2 separate regions of the Homo sapiens genome follow, and region 1 is linked to region 2. The links come from fine-mapping of genetic effects on plasma protein levels. Region 2 holds a variant in brackets. A gene starts in the other region. All regions are shown on their forward strands. Region 1 holds the start of SLITRK2 (SLIT and NTRK like family member 2). Region 2 has its middle 7.5 kb from the start of MAN2A1.

Evidence for each region. PIP is the posterior inclusion probability: the model's chance that the variant is causal. The UK Biobank Pharma Proteomics Project read protein levels with antibody pairs (Olink). The fine-mapping took linkage between variants from a reference panel, not from the people measured, so its PIPs are less certain.
Region 1: it holds the start of SLITRK2, and the variant in region 2 is fine-mapped to the plasma level of the SLITRK2 protein (UK Biobank, PIP 0.92).

What each region holds. Positions count from the first base shown.
Region 1 is chrX:145,807,814-145,818,333 of GRCh38, forward strand. SLITRK2 (SLIT and NTRK like family member 2) reads left to right here and starts at 10,016. Exons shown (of 5, transcript NM_032539.5): 1 at 10,016-10,213.
Region 2 is chr5:109,677,037-109,687,735 of GRCh38, forward strand. No RefSeq gene overlaps it. Among named protein-coding and RNA genes, the nearest start is that of MAN2A1, 7.5 kb to the right of the region's middle. The variant C/T (reference allele first, on the strand shown) is at 4,499.

The sequences.
Region 1 (10,520 bases), not on the chromosome of region 2:
ACTTTTTGACCTACCAAGGAGTAAGGATCCTACTGTTAATATTTTTCCTTGGACTCACACGTTTGTGTTCTGCCACTTGCTGTATTCATGTCACAAAGTATAAATGACAATTAAATTCACACACACACACACACACACACACGCACATTTTCTCACAAGCCAGGTGAAGCTACAATAAGAGAATTGGTTTTTCTATGATGAAGACTATTACTTCGTAATACCTCTAAATCCAGTTACTTTTGATATATTAGACATTGTCTGGGCTTAGAAAGAATACATACAATGTATGACTAAGCAGAATTGAACTTGAGGGGGAATCAAACCTAACATTTCTTCTCAATTTGAAGTGAATTTCACTTTTGACAAACTGTGAGGCAGTTATGCTACTCACCCAGATAGGAGATACTAATGGCCATTTTTCTCCTAATTAATTAATAAGGAATTAAAGTATACAGCAATACCCCATAAGGAGTTCATTAAGTGACAGACATTTTGTATACTGAATAGATCAAATTACTACAGAAAGCATGAGGGTACAGTTAAAAACGTCTGTGATAATAGCTATAATTTATTGACTGCCTACTGGTGGGCAATTGGTGGTGATCATGTTAACGCTTTTCAACACACTGTGGTTTCATAACTAATTAAGAAGTAAATGCAAGTATCAGACAGATGGAGCTCAAAATACCAGGTTCATTACTGTTAACAATAAATTCAATAACTTGGTTTGGTCTATGGCCATAATTGGACTTCCCGGCAAAGACTTCTGAATTAAATTTAGCCATCCAGTCCCAGGCAGTGCTGGGCATAATCTGAGAGTAGGTGGCCCTGGAAAGAAAAAAGGACACAAACATCACTGAGCTAATCTTGTTCAGATTCTTCTCTCAAACTCACCAGGGAGATCACTTCTTTCTTGGAGTCAGGAGGAGGAGAAGGAGAAGGGAGGCAGGGAGGAGGAGGAGGAGGAGGAGGAGGAGGAGGAGGAGGAGGAGGAGGAGGAGGAGGAGGAGGAGGAGGAGGAGGAGGAGGAGGCAGAAGAAGAGAAAGTGAGAGAAAGAGAGAGAGAGACCCACTCTTCCTATTATTTCCAGAAGGACGGTATTCCCTACTCTATGGATCAAGCTAAGAACACTTGGAGGATAATATGCTTTCCTTTTCACCTACTAAATGCTAGGCACTGTATGAAACATTTTATATCTTTTTTCTGTGTTTCTCACAACAATACTCACTAGGTCAGTATAATTATCCAGACTTTACAAAAGAGGAAAGTGAGACTCAGGGAATTTAAAACATGCCCACACTCCTACTCACATTCTTGGTTAGATAGTTGAGCTGGAATTCAAATCCAGATCTGTTTGACTCCAAAGCCCACATACTTTCTACTATCTGCACTTTATGCAAATGAAATCACCAAATTCCCCTTTTAAATAATTAAAGTAATGTAGATGGGGCATAAAAATGTCACTAGTCCTTTCAACTTTCTTGGATAATTGGGGCTTGTCAATCACATCTATTTGGTTCAGCATTAGATTATGTCAAATGAAATGTCTTTTCACAAAAACCTATTGTTTAATTTTAAGTTAATTCACCTTTGTAAATCTGAGAGGCTTAGTCCCATTCTGCCTTGGGTGTGTACACACAGTACCTATTAGCAATTAAAATGAGTTATAAATGCGTCAAGAAGAGATCCTGCAGCTGAAATCCAGGTCAGCTTACATGAAATGGATATATATCTTCCTCTTCTGAATGTTCATTAGATGTTCTATTTTATCTTCAAAAGTTAGTAGCAGAAATTTTCTTGAAGTTGACACTTATAGGTCAAGTGAGCTTCATGATAATGTTCTCAGCCCCCATGCATCAGAGGCCTACTCTGAAGGACTTATATAACTCTACTCAAAATTTTGAAACGAAGAAGATGCGAAATGAAAGAGAAAAAAAAACTATTTATGGACCCGGGTCTCCCTGCAATATCCTCAAAATTATTCAGTAGATCTAGTAAATGATAGCATGAAAAGTAAGCTACTTCAGATTTCCTTAAGTTTGATATTTTAGCATGTATGTGAAAATAATGAAGTAAATCTTTCTAAACTCAATACTGAGATTTGTGTTCATTTTTTTAAATTCAATAACTATTTACCAAGCATTTTATTCCATTTTATATAGTTCATCCCAAAGCACAACATAAGCAATAAAATTTTAGTTAAAAGAATTTGAAAATAAAATGGTACTGCTTAATGTGGCTGACCAAGCATGCACTTTTTGCAGGCCTATTATAACATGGTTCATAAGCAGAGTGTATTGTGCAATGGTAAATTTTAACGCTGAACATCAATGAAAAAATATAATTCTAAAATTAAAGCATCAAAACATTAAACAACCAAGCAGAGGCATTTACATGAGAGTTGGGAGATGTGAATTTTTCTTTTGACTCTGCCTGTATGACTGAATAAAATCACTTCACCTCTCTGAGCCTCATTTTCCCCATCTATAAAATGAAGATGTTGGACTAGAATGGATCTTGCCATTTACATCAGATTCCCTTGAGAGTCCTATAAAAGTACCATTCCCAGACTTCACCTTCAGAAAGTTCTATTCGGTAAGATTTTAGAGGAGCTCAGAAATCTTCCTGTTTAACAAGGGCCCAGGGGATGTGGATGTTGGAGATGAACACAAACTACAAAATAAGGTACGCTGAAGCTAGATCCCCTTCCCATCCTACCATTCTAATAGCCTATGGAAATTTGAGTAAAAATAACAATTATGGCTGGGCACGGTGGCTCACACCTGTAATCCCAGCACTTTGGGAGGCCAAGGCAGGTCATGAGGTCAAGAGATTGAGACCATCCTGGCCAACATGGTGAAACCCCGTCTCTCCTAAAAATACAAAAATTAGCTGGGCATGGTGGCGTGCGTGCCTGTAGTCCCAACTACTCGGGAGGCTGAGGCAGGAGATTTGCTTGAACCCGGGAGGCAGAGGTTGCAGTGAGCTGAGATTGCACCACTGCACTCCAGCCTGGCATCAGAGCGAGACTGTCGAACAAAAAAAAAAACATGATGATATCTTTATCGTAGAAACTTATATGTAGTGATAACCCATTTCAAGTAATCATTTTATCATAATATAAACTGCTCCCTGTAGTGTTTATACTTTTTGTTGATAAAACATCTAACTGTGAATGAAGGAATTCCCAAATCAATTATAAAAGAAAGAAAAGAAGGAAGGAAGGGAGGAAACAGGGAAAGGAAGGTATTGATAGATAGGCACATACATAAAACACAAACTCTTAGGCTATCAAGTGCTTTTATACCCAAAATAATCATCAGCATTTTGCAAGTAGAAAATTCTTAAACATTACATTACTTTGGTATTTCAATGAAAGATAAGAATTGAACACGCATGAAAGAAGCTTTGTAAGCCTGCAGTTTAATTGTAGATCACTTGCCCTGTTCCCCTATTATTTTGAGACTTTTTACATAGAATTATCAGTTACAGTAATTTATTAAGGTGGGTTTTTAAAATTATTTAAGGTACTGATATGGTTTGGCTGTGTCCCCATCCAAATCTCATCTTGAATTGTAGTTCCCATAATTCCCACGTTTTGTGGGAGGGACCTGGTGAGAGATAATAGAATCATGGGGTGGTTTCCCCCATACTGTTCTCGTGGTAGTAAGTCTCATGATGAGATCTGTTAATTTTATAAGGGGTTTCCCCTTTCACTTGGTTCTCATTCTCTCTTGTCTGCCGCCATGTAAGACATGGCTTTCACCTTCTGCCATAATTGTGAGGCCTCCCAGCCATGTGGAACTGTGAGTCCATTAAACCTCTCTTTTTTTTTTTTTTTTAAATAAATTTCCCAGTCTTGGGTATGTTTTTATTAGCAGTGTGAGAACAGACTAATACAGGTGCTTTGCATATTAACACTGAAAATTGATCAAGAAGTTGGATGTTTAATTTAATATAGGTATTATGGTCCATCTGTGTCCTTGAACTCTACTTTAGCCAAACCACATACTTAAAAACCATAGAGAAACACAACTTGATGAAGCCAGGTAAGCTGTGATCTACATCACCACTGCAGCTCAAGAATGAATTTGGCTAATGGCCATAGCAAAGATAACAAATCAACAATTTCATTGGAATTCAATACACCCCAATGTTGCAATATAAATCAAAGCAGATCCATTCAGAACCTTCAGTAAATCATATGACATTTGAATTCCAAGCAACTGGAACTTTACAGCAGGGATCCAGGTTTAGTCAAAATTGTTATACAATGTTTATTTATATTCAAGTATAGGAGTTACCTGAAATTGAGTGATTATATTTTTTAAAATTGTAACCAGAACATCAGTTCATTAATTTGACAGTTGTCTTTCCATGCTGCAAATAATAACCAGCGTTCATCATTTAGCAGTCATGTACAGCGCTCCCTACATATTAGTATTTTTATTGAAAAATACATTAAACAGTTCAATATATTCAAATTAAGGCAAATAAATTTTCCAGTTCTAATTGTGCCATTCTCTAACCTCGGTCAACTAGACCTATATATGAAAAGCTAAAGGATCAGCATACTGAATTTATTATTCTGAAGCAACGATGTGTAGCAAAAAAAAATAAGCTTGCTTTTGCCTCCTTTCAAAATATTAATAAAGTGACACTGACCCCACTCCTGTACTTGTGTTGCTGTGGTGATGCCCACGGTGGAAGAAAAATTTGGTGATAATTATGCTTTCAATATTGGCATGGTTTCCTGAGATTCCCGCAAAGTGATGCTTTCAAGATGCTGCATATAATTCTTCCACCTCAGAGACACTTCAGGCTATTCTTCTAAGAGAACTTCAGGTGTATTTAGGTAATCTAAAACTCATAAAACTTGAGGCTCATTTTCTTTTCAATTTGCTTAGGAATATAGTGAGACCAAAGGCAGATGCAAAAGTTACTTAATATATGTCCTGGGGCCGTTACATCTGACTAAGAGGTTACCTGACCTACCATAATCAGGTGAAGAGGGTTGTATTCCAAATGTCATTGTACTGTCACTTAAGAAACTGCCTGGGAGATGAAAAATAGAAGGGGACAAAAATAATTGATATCACATCTGAGTAATAAGTCATCAGGATTCAAGGTAAAAAACATCCATTCTCCTCACATTGATTTGCAATGATGGTTGAATGCGGCATCCAGTTATTACTGGAAATGATTTTATTTACATTCTAGATCTTACTTGCCTCATTTCTAAACCTACAATTTTGAAACTCTGCTTCATTTTGTGCAAATCACAACTTCAGGTAGATCTGGGGTATGTCATCCTTGCCATTTTGTTCATATTAATAGACTAGTCCTCTTCACAAATGATGACATTTTTAAAAATCAGAACTACTTAGTGCAAATCCTGAGTAGCTGCTCCTCTGACCGTAACTCTTTAGAACTGGGCATCTTCTATGCAGACATTTTTGAATTTTCCAGCAGAGTCAGCATTAAACTCTCTACCACAGCACATACTTTACCATATATTTATACTAGCCAAACATAAATACATAAATAAAATCAACAGAACTTATTACAGAGGCTCAACTGCATTATACCATTCCAATAAAGTGCAATGTCAAACCTAATAAATTTGGCTTCCTCCTGAACACATTAGGTTGTAACTCCAAACCAAAATATGACTTCCAGCTGCAGCAAAATTCATAAGATAGAATGTGTCAGGATAGATGAAATACCTACTAATGCTGTCCTGAGCCTTATCTGTTAAATTTGTGGCTTTTGCCATGTATATGTGCTCCCAAGTCTAGTAAGCTTAAATGTGGTTCTTACTGATAAATCACTGGACTCAGTCAAAAAAGAGGGAGAGCCAGAGCCCTTAGAGAACAGGTATCATTAATAAGTGGCACTTGGTGTAATTGATGGGGGCACCATAAGTCTTTCTATAACTTTGTAAGACATGCAGTTGTCTTTTCCTTCTATTTCTGTACTTCCCCTCTTGATCTACTGCCTCTTTTCTCCTTTCTATCCCATTTTCCTTCCTTTCCTGCCCATTCCAGCGTGGCAGTGTTATTCAAACTGTAAGAGGCAATCTACAGTCACTCCTGAGTTCAGTTTAGTGGGCCACAGCCAAGCATTTAAAAAATCGACTACAATAGAATAATATTTCATTATATATTGTTATATTACTTATTACATTTATATAATTACACGTATGTATATATAGTATACATATGCACATTACACACACACACAAAAGCCAGTGACGCTGCTAATCCTTCTACATTGCATAGGGCAGCCCCCACAACAAATAATCATTTGACCAAATATATCAACAGTGTTGAGTTTGAGCCCTGATGTATACATATATGTAACTATTTGAAAACATCTGTAAAATGAAAGATGGAATTTTTTTGAAGTTATTTTAAATGTTTGACATTACATGGCTCCAACTAGAATCATAAATATTTTTTCTAATGCTAATTCTGTTATCCAACTTAAATTAAGATGTTGGTTTCTGACTAAAATCAACCATTTCACCAAGAATGGGAGTAAGGGTAAGTTACTTAAATTTTCTGAGTCTCACTTTCCTCTTTTGTAAAGTCTGGCTAATCATACTGGCCTGTTGAGGATTGTCATGAGAAACATAGAAAACAGATATAAAATATTTTGTATAACTTATTTATTTTAAGAAGTGAGTTAAAAATTTTTTTAGTTTAAGATTTATTTGCACATACATGTACCACCGTTCAATTTTCAAGAGTTCTGTATACATCCCATCCTTACTGACTCCACATAGCAGGTGCCAGTTTTACACATGGGGAACTGAAATTGGTGTAATGCTGTTTTTGTCCCATTGTGAGAAAGTAGCACGGGTGGAATTTGAACCCAGGTCATTGGGCTCCAAGGGCTTGGATATGTATTTGATTAAAAGAAAAACTGCCCTGGGTCTTGGCCCAGCACTATTTCAATCAGGCCAAAATGCCTGCCAAATAATCCAAATAATTGAATTGAATTGAAAAATATCCACCTTTTCAATAACATCAGGAACAAAAGTCTACAATATCCTGTAAACTATAATTACTAATATTAAGGGCATGTCCGCTTTGTTGCGTTTCTTTATTTAGGAATTTGTTCTGTGGCACTCTTCTTTGAAACCTTTGGTTGGAAAGAAACTATGTTCACTGAAAATGCAGCACATTTTGTCTTCTTTTATATGTTTTAAAGCTTTCTAGTTCTGGATAGGTGTGAAGAAGTTGAAAAAGCAACATTCTCAGGTAAATTACGTACTACACAGTAATAGGACATCCTTTACATCATCCTGGAAACATATGCGCTTTTTATCTCACTCATCGCAGGTGAAATTTCTGGTTTTCTTCTAACCTTAGAATGAAATTATAAAAACCCAGGCAAGATTTAGTTTTATTTCTCTGTTTTTCCACTAGTTTTCCAATCGGGATCTCTATGTTGTTTAGTAACACGAACTTCACAATAGAAAGTAGCTTACAGTAAACCAAACCCCCACCACATGCAATTTACCTATATAACAAACTTGCACACGTACACCTGAACCTAAAATAAAAGTTTTTCAAAAAGAAAACAGCACATGGATATAAAGATACATTTACAGTGCTAGTATAAAGAAGAATAATGTGATTTTTATTAATGAACAGAAGTACATTAATATGGTGTCTCTAGTATTCAATTCTATTTGGAAATTTTCCTCTAACACAGAAGCTTTTAGAAAATTCAGCATAAAGCAGCTTTCAAATAAATTGGCATATTTAAATTTTTCACAGACTTCAAACTCTCCTCCATTATAACTGTCTATGCAAAACCCTCTCAGAAAGTTTTATATTGCTCATCAATTTTCGTGTCTGTGCATTCAAAGCACAGCTATCCACCTACTTGAAAATTTTATGCTGACAAAAAGAAAAGTCTGCTCTTTTTAATTTTGTCTTACTATCAGTGTGGTCCCATGTGGAAAGGCAGGCTGCTAAATGCTTTTCGAAGGCTGGTGAACAGGTTAGACTTGCTTACAAGGCTAATTAAAATTGATGCATGCCATCTATTACATGTTACTACTGGATCTAAATAAAGTATCACTTTTCATCATTAATGCCATGTTCCTTCTCTACTCTGTATAGAAGTTTTTGCTTATTTTGTATGTTCCCTTTGGCTACAGACACATCACCCTTCTTAGTAAACTGTCTGAGTTTTTCAGCATGACTGTCTCATTATTTCTGTATTGGAATGGCCTCTTAGCTCTGTGTTTTGCAGTTGTTTATAACATCTACTAAAAGCGACATGAAAAGATGACACAGTCAGAAATACGGTAAAGACAGAAGTAACAGTATTAACTGACCTCATTTAGTTAATAATATGATGTGCTCAGTGCACTGCTTTTAGTCTGTAGCAAACAGCACATTGGATGTTTACACTAATACAGATATTGTAAAAAGAAGAGCAATGCTTCTGGATATATAACCGTACATACACTGCCCACGTGCTTATGTGAGAACTATGTTATTCCGAAGTTGCTTATCTGAATGGTAGGAAGATTTCAAAAAGGCTTTCTCAAGAATGAAATAAAAGGAACAGTAATGACCCTTACAACTCCGAAGATACGATTATAATTCTTCCGACTATTATTAAAGCAAACTCTGTACATCTTCATAATATAAGATTGCCAGTAGTTTTCTTTTTAAAAAGCCCAGCATAATCTCCTTAGAAAACCATTATGAAAGAAAGCCAAGAAGAGAGGACAGGAGAAGCACAAAAGATTCCCACGGGAAGGACAAGAAAAAGGTGGTTGTCAGTGCTGTGAGAACGAGTTGAAAGGCATGGGAAATATGGAAACAGACAAATTCCAATGCAGATCCACTAGCTGGAGAGGTAATTTTGCGTCTAATTTTGCACCTCTCTCCTCGCCTCCCCGTCTGCTCTCCACCATCACGCTTTTCGACAGTAAGAAGGATTTGGGGTTTTGCAGACTCTAGCGGGCATGAAAAGGATAGGGGGTGGCAACGACTTGAATTAATGACGTTCTCCTACAGGATGGAGGGGAAAATGACTTAGTGTCATCAAATGAACTCCCTACTCCTGGCATAAATTTATCAAACTGCAACTTTATCTCGAATACTCTGGAAGAGTAGAGGAGAGGCCCTAGAGAAAGCAAGTCTTGAGGGGAAACGCAATGCTCTTGGCAAAAACCGCACCTCCCTCTTGAACTACACTGACTCTTTTCACAGAGCGCCTTCCTTTAATAGAATCACAACCACCTGGACTACTAATAAGAGGAAGAAGAAAGGAGAAAAGGGAAGGGAGGATGGCAAAAATCACGCTCTAGAAGATCCAGGCAACGTCGTCGTGAAGAATAAAGGGAATCAAAATGGGCACTGGAACGCTGCTAAGGGCTTGCTTTGTTAACACACTTGCACAACTCAAGTTCAGCTCTATCTTATGTTGAAAGTCCTTGTTTACGATCCTCGTAGGAGGTTCTTAAATATCTGCCTGCGAACTCCCAAAGACTGGGCGCTTACTAGTTAGGGGAGGCAGCTGTCCCGGAGGGTGTCCAGCTCGGATGGCTGACTGCTCTTTCACTTGTCGTTAACTTCCACCCAGTAGTCTTAGTCTCCCCTTGGACATGGTACCGACCGTGTGCCATTCTTATTTCACTTGACCGAGCCCGAGCTGCAGCCCAGGGTGGAAGCCGCAAGGGCTGGGCAGAGTTCCAGGCAAGAGGGACCGAGAGGCGTGAGCAGTGCTCCGCAGCGCTTGTCAGAGAAATGGAGCAGCGGCTCCTTTGTGGGCTCTTACATCCCCGTCCTGGGTGCACAGCCCGGATATTTGATCTGTGGGGTGATTGATAAGTGAGGGAGAGGGGGGACGCGATCCCTCCCTCCCTCCTCCCTCCCTCCTCCCTCCTCACTCCCTCCTCCCTCCTCCCTCCCTCCTCCCTCCTCCCTCCCTTCTTCCCCTCTCCTCCCTCCCGCTTTACTTCCCTCCTCCCTCTCGCCTCCCTCCCTCCTTCCTGCAAGAAGCGTTGCCCGTTGGCTAGCTGCTCGGTGGGGATCTGCCTGCCCTGGGGGCGCCGCCCGCGCTCCCCGCGGTGCTCTCGCTCCTGGGCTGCGCCAGTCCGAGGCGGTGCCGGCTCCTTTGCCTCCCCGAGTCGCAGATGCTGCGGGCGCCTCCGGGAAAAGATCTGGGCGGCGCGCTCGCTCGGTAAGTTCTGAGCACTCAGGGACGCGGTGGCGACGCGGCCAGTGAGCCGGCTTTCCTCAGTCCGTTGCCTTTCCCGGCCACCTCTCCTTGCGAGGGGCACCAGCGTGGGGAGGCTGGGCGCCATCCGCGGAGGGCAGCTCGCTGGCGGCCGCCCTCTACCCTCAATCCCCACTGGAGATTCCTCACCCCGGGACCGTCCGCGCGGGCGTGGTCGGGCTCCGCGCCTCGCGCAGCGGGGTGGCACAGGCGGCCAGGGAGGGCCCACGCACCCGGCGCGAGCTAGAAGCCTCCGGTCGGCCTGCAGTGC
Region 2 (10,699 bases):
GGTCTTCTCTCTCACTCAGAGACCTCAGGGGAGCATGAGAAATGAGTCAGTCTCTCTGAGGACCCACCAAGCTGCCAGAGCTAAACAAGAGTCTTGTTTGAACTCTGAAGGGGAGAAGGGACAGAAGGCATGGATGAGAACACAGCTGCAGTTGACTTCCGTGAAACCATCTGGAGAGCATGGCCCAAGAAAGAGAAAAGGGCACGGGGACCAAATTAAGAATGTTCTTAGTTAATTTTCTAAAGAATGAGTCCACTGAAAAACCACCCACTCCTGGGTTCCTGATAATGCAAACTTCATTCATTTGTTTATTCATTCAACAAATGGAGTAGCTCCGACCAATATTATGGATTGGCTTGGAAAATACCTCTGGCTTCTTGGCAGAGAATCAAGCAAGAAACTTACATGTGATTTTGGTCTATTCTAAATAACTTCTCTAGGTTACATACTTACACGCTGATGGTTCACACATAAGGAGGACAAAAGGAATGCTACCAAAACAAAAATCACCCCTCAAAATTATTTAAAAGGCAGAAGATTTTAAATTGAAGAAATATCTTTAGCATCAAGTCAGGGTATGAATGTACCAGAAAGGCTTTGTTTTAGCAAATTTACTTCCCAAAGGGCAGAATAATATATATGAAATGAAAAATGCACAGGCCTTTTGTTCTTTAATGACCTTGGGGGAATATTCTAATTTATCAGGAATCTGCCAAGAAAACAGTTTACCTCTTCAGTTGTCTCATTTTGTGTTTCTGAATTTTTTTTTTTTTTTTTTTTTTAGCCAGGGTCTCAATCTGTTGTCCAGGATGGAGTGCAGTGGTGCAATCATGGCTCACTGTAGCCTCGACCTCCTGGGATCAAGTGATCCTCCCACTATCAGCCTCCTGAGTTGCTGGGACTACAGCTATGTGCCACCATACCCAGCAAATTTTTGTATTTTTTGTAGAGACGAGGTCTCACCATGTTGCCCAGGCTGGTCTTGAACTCCTGAGCTCAAGTAATTTGCCCATTTCAGCCTCTCAAAGTCTGGGATTATAGGTGTGAGCCACTGTGCCCTGCCCATGTTTCTGAATTTTTAATACATTTTATTAATTCTTGCTGATCTGTGAAACACTAAGAAAAGTAAATTGTTTTATAATTTTGTCTCTTAATATCCTCCAAAAAATTAATTCTATTGCTTTTTCTTTGCATACTTCTTGGATACTATTTTCCTCCCTTTGTGTCAGTGACTTATCACAGGAAGAAAAAAAAAATGTTCCCCATCCATTCCTTACTTGGTATCTATAGGGCTGTAAGCGAAGACATTGGCTTTATCTACAAACTGCTGCAGTCAGATTGTTATGGAAATAGGAATTAATTATTGTAGAAGCAGTATAATGATCTTCTTTGGAATCAGAGAATTAAAACCAGGATTCAAAGCAATACCCGTAAGGGAAAGTGGTTGGGGTTTATATCGGAATCATGGGGGTATATTATATTAAGGTTAAAGAGGGAGGATGAGATGGAAAGACAGAAAATCTCGCCACAGCATGTGGAAGTTTCTCCTTAGGAGAGCCTTGTGGCTCATTGTGCCTGTCAAGTAGGCTAATGTGCCTGTAAATTTCCTCTGACAGAAAACACATCACAGCAGCAGCACCAGAAAACAACACAACCAAACTGTGGAAGACTGAAAACCCAGTGCTTTCAAGGGTGATCAGAATATGCCAGAGTAAAAAACAAAAACAAAAACCAAAAAAAAAGCAAGGCATTGAAAATAAACAAAAGCTAGGGAGAAATGAGATCACCTTCCAAGAAATAAGCATTTATCATTCATTCATAGGCGAAAGGAAATGCTTCTCCCACAGTCATTTTTTAATGTATTATTGGGCAGTCTCAGTTCAAGGTCAAAAATGTCAGAGGGCAAAAGGAATAGGACTCAAGATTTAATGCTGTATTTATCATAACTGGCTTTGTAATTGCATAAATATTAAATATGTAGAACTAATTGCAAGCACATTATCTCCATATCTCCACACATTGCTTTAATTTTTAATGTAATCTTTTATCTGCCTTTTCCTCAGCTGGCTGTGGGTTTGTAATTTGCATAGCTAGAATGATCCGGTGCCATCAATTTAGTAATGAAGTCACTCATTGAGCAGAAGAGTTTTCTAAAGATTATACAAAGCTGTAGGAAAGAAAAGAACAGAAATGAAATTTTATGTTTCAAATAAATGGGAAGTTTATTTTAGAACATATTTTCCATTGTAAATTTAATGCAACCACTTCATAACAAATTTGGAAAACAGAGAAGATTGGGAAAAAGCACCCATATTTCATCATCCTAACTTATCAGTGTTTTGTGGTCTTTTATACCTAGGCACATATATTTTTAACATCGATGTAATCATAATTATGTGTGTGTATATGTGTGTAATTTTACATCCTATTTTTTGTATTATTACTATGGTTTTCATAACTATAACTTTTATGACTATAAAATACTAATAAAAAGAGGTGTCTATAATTTTCTCACTTACTAAATTTCTTGTGGCTAGCCGAGCAGAGGGGTGGAATCAGATGGATTAAATTTCAGCTCTGCTATTGAACTGTGTGGATTTGGGCAAGTTAGTAAAAAGCTGGGCGTTAGTCTTCTCATCTACAAAATGAGGATAGTGATAGTGCTTTTATTAGAGTGTTCTTGTTAGAGTTAAAGGAAGTAATCCAGCATTTAGCCTGGCTCTGTCATATAATAGGTACTAAAACTAAGTATTAGTAAAGGCAAAAATGTCAAATACATTACATTGGGTTTCAAAACTTAGGAAAAAAAACTTAAGTCCTACAAAACTGAATTTCCTGGGATATTTCCATCACCCCCTTTAGAATTTTTTTAAAAATTTCTATTTAAAGATGGGGTCTTGCTCTGTTTCTCAAGCTGGACTCAAATTTTTGGGCTCCAGTGATTCTCCTGCCTCAGCCTCCCATGCAGCTGGGACTATAGGCATGCATCAGTGAGCCCTGCTTGCCCTCACCCTTGAAGTTCCCATGTGCCCTTTCCCAGTCACAACTCCTTTCTTCCACCGCGAACTAGACATTGATGCTTAGTGCTTTGTTGCTTTCCTTTATGCTTTACATGTAAGTATGCTTCTCTAAAGATACAGCTTATTCCCTGTTATTGAACTTGATATAAGTGGAGTCACACACACACACATGCACACACACACACATCATTCTGTATTTAGATAGCATGCAATCTAAGGCTTGGTTTTGTGATGAAAAAGCTTTAGACGTGGAACCAGAGAACTGGGCTTCTAGTCTAGTCTCCTTGAGACCTCGGGCAAATCTTTTTACCTTTCTCCATGTAAAATGTTTGGATGTTCTAAGTGTCTTTGAAGCTTTAGAGTACAGAGTTGTTAAGCCTTTCCTATTTGAGTATTGTGTGGCATATGAAAATCAGAGTCAAAGAGAATCCATAGAAAGGCCTAGTCTGGCTGGAAATAGACCTCCTCTTCCCCCAAATTAGGCCAATTGTAGTGACAGCAAACAAAGGCTTGTAGAAAAATGAAAGTGATGATCCTACATCACAAATAATTTTCTCATCTCTGATAAGTGCACATTTAGACATATTATTAGCCCTAATTATACTGTACATAGAGGATATTTTCCCCAGGATAAATCATAGCCATAAAGATTGTAATTTCAAGAGTTCAGAGTTCAAATAAGTAATCATATATTAGATAATATAGGTTTTTCTGGAAAGAGACAGTTTTAAACATTTTATTCCATTCTCTCTGTAGATGTATTTGTATTTCTACAAATACTGCCTATGGTAAGTACTGCAGGCTGGCTCACTCACTGTCCATTCTCCTCTCTTCTTATGGTGGCTTTTGTACTTCAGAGGCTGGAAAATTAAAACATTTCCTAGACTTCTTTGCACGTAGAGCTATGATATGAATTAGGTCTACAATTCGATACACTCATGCAAAACTTAAGAGAAAAGAAGTTAAGGCATCCTCCTGACCACTTTTGGTGGCATTTCTCTTAGAATTAAGGTCATAGAAACATTTTTCTGCAGCAGTGTTCCATGGTCCATTATTCAGCCTCCTGGAAGACAATATGCAGCAGAGGCCGTTGACAGCAGTAGGTTTTTGACTCCATCTTCTGTCATAGGGTTATGTTCTTGAACTCAGTGTTCCAGTAGTCTTCAGAGGTACTAGCTTCACTGATAGGTCACTTGGTATTATACGGGGAATCACTTTTGGAAGCTTGGTCTACAGCCCATTTCTTCAATCCTGACATGGATTTTTGTAAGCATCCTCTATTAAATAACTTCTTGCTTAAAATACCTAGAATGATTACTAATTTTTACACTTAATCTGAGCAATACACTTCCTAAATGTTATTTTCAAAAATCTATTCGTTGTAATACGAGGTATAAAGTATCATAATTCTATAGAATGCTGCATCAAAAGAGGAGTTTTGAAACCAGAAAAACGAAGCTATACCATTTAGTAGCTAA[C/T]TATTCTAAAGCAAGTTATTTAACTTCTCTGTATCTAAGTTTCTTTATATGTAAAATAGATGTTAATATAATAGTCTTGCAGAGTTATGATAATTAAATGAGGCAACATAAATAAAGCACTGAGCATAGATGCATTATATGGTGTTCATTTCTTTCTATCCCTATATTGGACTTCCTTTCGTGATCGAGATGATTAGTAAAATAATTTGGGGGAGAAATTATCTTTAAAGCGTTTTTTATTAAAGAAACGCTCACTTTATAGGAATATAAAGATTTAGTGCTGACTCACAAAGACAAAAGGAATAGCTTTAAATGCAGCTCAAAAGCAAACAGACATCTATTACGAGCCAGGGCAACTCATAATGGGCACCACCAATCCACATCAACTGGTAGCTCAGGACCAAGATTAGTATTCACTCATTCAACAAATATTTATTAGGCCTCAATATTGCTAGACACTATTTTACTCACTAAGATACAATGTTGAATCACAAGGTCTCTGACTTGTAGCAGCTTGCATTCTATTGGGAGGATAGACATAAAATAAGTCAATACATAATTTCAAATAGTGAGAAGGGTTATAAAGAATAAAGTCCTTCTCCAGCTCTCCTTCCCTTACCTTCTTATGTCTCTCTCAGCAGTGTATTATGCTACTTGACTCATCCTCTCTTGCAGCTTCCTTTCATGGGAAGAAAGGCACAGGGAGGTAAAGGCTATGCCAACAATATGAAGAGTCTCTGAGGTAGGTGGGTAATTTCAAGATCTGTAAAAGGTCGAGGGGTCACTACTGTTTCGTGGATGTCAGTGGAAAACACAAGACACCCTGATTAGAGACAAAGGAAGATGTTAAAGAGACAGGAAGATGTTGAGCCTGATGTCGGTGCTAGTTTCTCATGTCCCCCAGATCCCACAGGGTCTGAGGGAAAGGGTCCAGGTGGATGCAACATACACAGTGGATTTGTCACAGCAAAGGAATATTGAGCTTGAGGAATTTACTGCTTTACAGTGTGTGGTAAGTCAGTCTGCTCATTGTTTGGGAGAAGACATTACTCTGTTGCTCAAGGCTGCTCCCTGCAAACACAACCCTGAGAGGACACAAGTAAATAATGGTCAGGGCCTTGCATTCTTAGCATACCCAGAAAGAATGTGTAAGGATGCTCAGGGCTTTGACAGACTGATTCTCACAATAGGTTGAGTGGAGAAAAGGATTAAACCCGCATTCATTTATAGTTTTATGCAACCACAATTATAAAATTTTCTCAAGTTTTTAGGCTTTAGAACTTTGTCCTACTCCTTTCCAATTTGTCCCCCTTAGATATGATCTATTTAGGCCTTTGAGGAGCTCAGACAGACTTAGAGTATCAGTTGACAGAAAAGATAGATTTTCCTATTGTTAGCAAATATAAGCTGAGGCTCTTGTGCACATACAGACTTATCACCAGAAGCATGGGGCTAGACCTCATGCCTTCCAGAAACCTCACCCCAAGCACTCCTTCGAGACCTTTCCTATTCAAAATTACATTGAGTGCTCACTTTAACTTAATCTTCACTGCAAAAATGTATATCAGTGGGTAGGAAAAATGACAGATATCTATGATATGCTCCCAACCTGGAGCATTCCTTGGGTGGCCGTTGTTCTTGCATCCTGGTAGAAGGGGTTCTTCCTGGATTATGCTCACAGTACACTTTCATTGAGCTCTCAAGCCATAGATCGATGACAAGGGAGAAAATGGTGAACTTGCTCCATGAGAAATCAATGCTCTCCAATTATCCACATGGACTTCCTTCTCCATGTCCCATAGCAGCTGTTTCCAATGTTCTCTCCCCTACTCACCTCTCAATTGCACCCATCTTTCCCTTTCCCAGAGTAAATGGAAGTATCTGGTGAATGCTCTCCCAATATGTCACTACCTGTGGCAATCATACAGCAAGGCTGAAAGATCACTGTTACTACCCCAATATAATATGTTGGAAAATGGAGGCTTAGAGATATTATGTAACTTTCCCAAAGTCACAAAAGCTTTATGTACTGGAGAAGCAATCAAATTTGAACCTTTATGATATGGGTTCTGCCCTCATGTACCTTCCCTTCCCTCTATTTTCAGTGTTCCTACAAAAAGCTCTAGCCTCCTGAGCCCCAGAAACATGTACACTATAGAGAATGTTTGCTTTCACTTTTGCTAGAAAATTTTCTCATAGCATAAGGATTAAATCTGTAGCAATTTGTTTCCCTAATGACAGAGATAATTGCTCTGATCCAAAGGGAGGATAAAATTTCTCATATCTTTCCCAAATGAAAAGATTGTATCCCAGGATAGGCACCTAGGTTTGTTCTGAAGGTCCTGGGGAAACCAGAATGTCTGTCTGTCTGTCTATCTATCTATCTATCTATCTATCTATCTATCTATCTATCTATCATCTATCTATCTTTCTATCTGTCATCTATGTCATCTCATCTATTTATCCATCCTATGTATTTATCATCTAATTTATCTGTATATCTCTATCATCAATTTATCAATTATCTATCAATCTATTTTCCAGCTTTATTGAGGTATTATTGGTAAATAAAAATTGTATATATTTATGGTGTACAACATGAAGTTCTGATACATGTATCCATTATAAAGTGATTACCACAAGTAAGCTTATTAACGTATCCATCACCTCACATAATTACCATTATTTTGTGGATGATGAGAACGCTTAAGATCTATCCTCTTAGCAAATTTTCAGTACACAATACAGTATCATTAACCATAGTCACCATGCTGTTTGTTAGCTCTCCAGAATTTATTCATCTAATAATTGAAGGTTTATACCCTTAGACCAAAATCCCCCCATTTCCTCCACTTCCCAGCCTCTGGCAACCACCATACAACTTTCTATTTCTATGAATTTGACTTCTTTAGATTCCACATACCAGTATAAGTGAGATCATGAGGTATTTGTCTTCCTGAGTCTGGCTTATGTCACTTAACATAATGTTCCTCAGGTTCATCTAAGTTGTTGTACATGATAGGATTTCCTTCCTTTTTAAAAGCTGAATAGTATTCCATTGTTTATATATACCACATTTTCTTTATTCATTTGTCTGTTGATGGACACTTAGGTTTATTCCATATCTTGGCTATTGTGAATAATTCTGCAATGAAAATGGGAGTGCAGCTATCTAATGAGATAACACCTCACATCTCTTGGAATGGCTATTGTCAGCTTTTGGAGACCTAAAGACTCATATGTTAGTAACAATAGGAAAACATACAGCTTTTTCATAAGTGATAGTAAAATCTTATTTCAGTAAAGTAAATAAGTGATCAAGATCATCCAAATTAATTTTCTGAAAAAGAGAAGTTGCTTTGGATATATACACAGGAGTGGGATTGCTGGATAATGTGGTAGTTCTATTTTTAAGTTTTTAAGAACTTCATACTGTTTTCCACAATGGCCTACCAGTCTATAATCCTATAAATAGTGCACAAGGGTTCCTTTTCTCCATTTCTTGGTCAACTCTTATTATTATTTGACATGTTTCTAGTAGCCATCCTAACAGGTATGAGGTAATATCTCATTGTGGCTTTCATTTACATTTGCCTGATGATTAGAAAACCTTTTTTTTTTTTTTTATATGGAGTCTTGCTCTGTCACCCAAGCTGGAGTGCAGTGGTGCAACCTCTGCTCACTGCAACTTCTGCTTCCTGGTTTCAAGCGATTCTCCTGCCTCAGCCTCCACAGTAGGTGGGATTATAGGCACCTCCCACTACACATGGCTAATTTTTGTATTTTTAATAGAGAACGGATTTCACCAGTGATCTGCCCGCCTCAGCCTCTCAAAGTGCTGGAAGTACAGGCAGAAGCCACAGTGCCCGACCTAGAGCACCTTTTAATATTAGCTGTGGGCCATTTGTATGTCTTCTTTGAAAAAATGTTTATCCAGGTGACTTGTTCATTTTAAGATTGGGCTATTTATTTATTTACTATTGAATTATGTGGGTTCATTATATATTTTGGATATTAGTCCCTTAACAAATATGTGGTTTGCAAATATTAGGTTGGTGCAAAAGTAATTGCGGTTTTTTTGCCATTACCTTTAAAAAATCACAGTTGCCATTACCTGCAAAAACCGCAAATACTTTTGCACCTACCTAGTATTTTCTATCAGCTGGGTGGTTGCCTTCTGTATTTGTTTGCTAGGGATGGCATAACAAAATACTAAGGACTGGCTAACTTAGACAACAGAAATTTATTTTCTCAGTCTGGAGGCTAGAAGTCCAAGATCAAAGTGTCAGCGGGTTTGGTTTCTCCTGAGGCCTCTCTCCTTGGCTTGCAGATGGCTGCCATCCCAATCTGTCCTCACATGGTCTTTTCTCTGTGTGCATGTATCCCTGGTCTCTCTCTCTTCTTATAAGGACACCAGTCAGATTGGATTAGGGCCTTACTAACAGCTTCATTTTAACTTAATCGTCTTTTTAACTTAATCTCCTCTTTAAAGACCTTATCTCTAAATACTATTACACTCTGAGGTACTGGGGGTTGGGACTTCAACACGTGTATTTTAAAGAGAAACATTCAGCCTATACCACTTTCCTTCCATGGCCACGTGATTGGTATGACCAGTCCCTGCAACAATCACTTTGCCCCTTTTCCCCCAAATCCTAACCATTGCTAACCCACACCATCTGTTTGGATTCATCTCTCAGTGACTCAGTGGTTTTGTCCTCATATAGCTTTACCATCCTAGAACATATCCCACATCCGAAGTGACCACTTTAGAGTTGTCATCTCATACTCAAGATCATTATCTCCTTCTCTCTGGTTCAAATATATATTATTACAGCACCTAAAATACTTACTAATTCCTGCTCATCAGGTCCAATCAGCATAATGTTGTCAATGTAGTGGACCAGTGTGATATTTGATGGTATGTCAAGACAATCAATATCTCTGTGGACTATATTAAGGTGAATTGACATACCCCCAAGACAATACTGTGAAGGTATCCTGTTGGCCCTAACATGAGAAAGCCAACTGCTTCTGGTGGTTTTACAAACAGATATAGAGAAAACAGCATTAGCCACATCAGTAGCTATATACCAAGTGCCAAGTGCTATGTTGATTTGTTTCAGTAAAAATAATACATTTGAGACAGCAGCAGCAATTGGAATCACTTCCTGATTAAGTTTATGAGTCCACAGTTATTCTACTAGATGTATCCTGTACTGGTGAATTAAATGAGAGTAAGTATCACCACTCCTACTCCTTTTAAGACTTTTATGATAGCACTGATTCCTGCAATTCCTGCCAGCCATGCAGTGTTGTGTTTAGTGAGCTAAGTGGAAGCTCTAAGAGCTCCTGGAGCTTCCATTTAGCTCTCCCTAATAATAGCCCTCATTCTATGGCTAAATCCCAATGTGGGGATCCTGTCAGTTGCTAAGTATGTCTGTTACAATTATTAGATTGGTGCAAAAGTAATTGCTGTTTTTGCCATTAAAATTATGCTGTTAATACATATTCCAATTACACTGGGAAAGTAGCCACATAGTTGGTATGTGGACTAACAGTGGTGATTTCTGTCCCCAGGAATTAGCATCAACTCAGAGCCAGTGTTTAGTAAACCTCAAATGATCTGTGTATTTCCTTTTCGCCAATGCAGTTTCACTAGTAAATGGCCACATGTCGTTTTGGGGAAAGCTTGAAAGAATTTGCCATGTGTACTGTAGCCAAGGTGCAAGATCCTTCTTAAAGGGAACACAGATTCTCTTTCAACCAAGGGACTATGGGTCTGTGAATTGACTTAGGTCTGAGAACTGAGAGACTGTGACTATCCACTGTGGTGACTCAAGTCAGGTTTTGGCTACCTGACTTAGATCTTTTTACCTGTTATAAATATCAAGCAATAATCTATTTCAACTGCCTATCTATTTTGTTCTCAGAGCAGCTCCGTAAGCCAAGGCAGTCTGATTTCCTGCTGCCCTTTAAGGTACATGTGCGCCCACCTTGTCTTTGTTGGTTATGTGCTGCCTGGTTTCTGCTATTCTGAGATCGTGTCATCCCCATTGAAATCAGGGAGCCCATCTAGATAGTGGCATCCTCTATAGTCAAGGTTTTCAAGCAAGGCTAGTCTCTTTAGACACTGGAGGGCAACCTACTTCCACTGATAAGAGAAAGAGTTGGCGTGTTTAAGATTGTCGGTTTCATCTG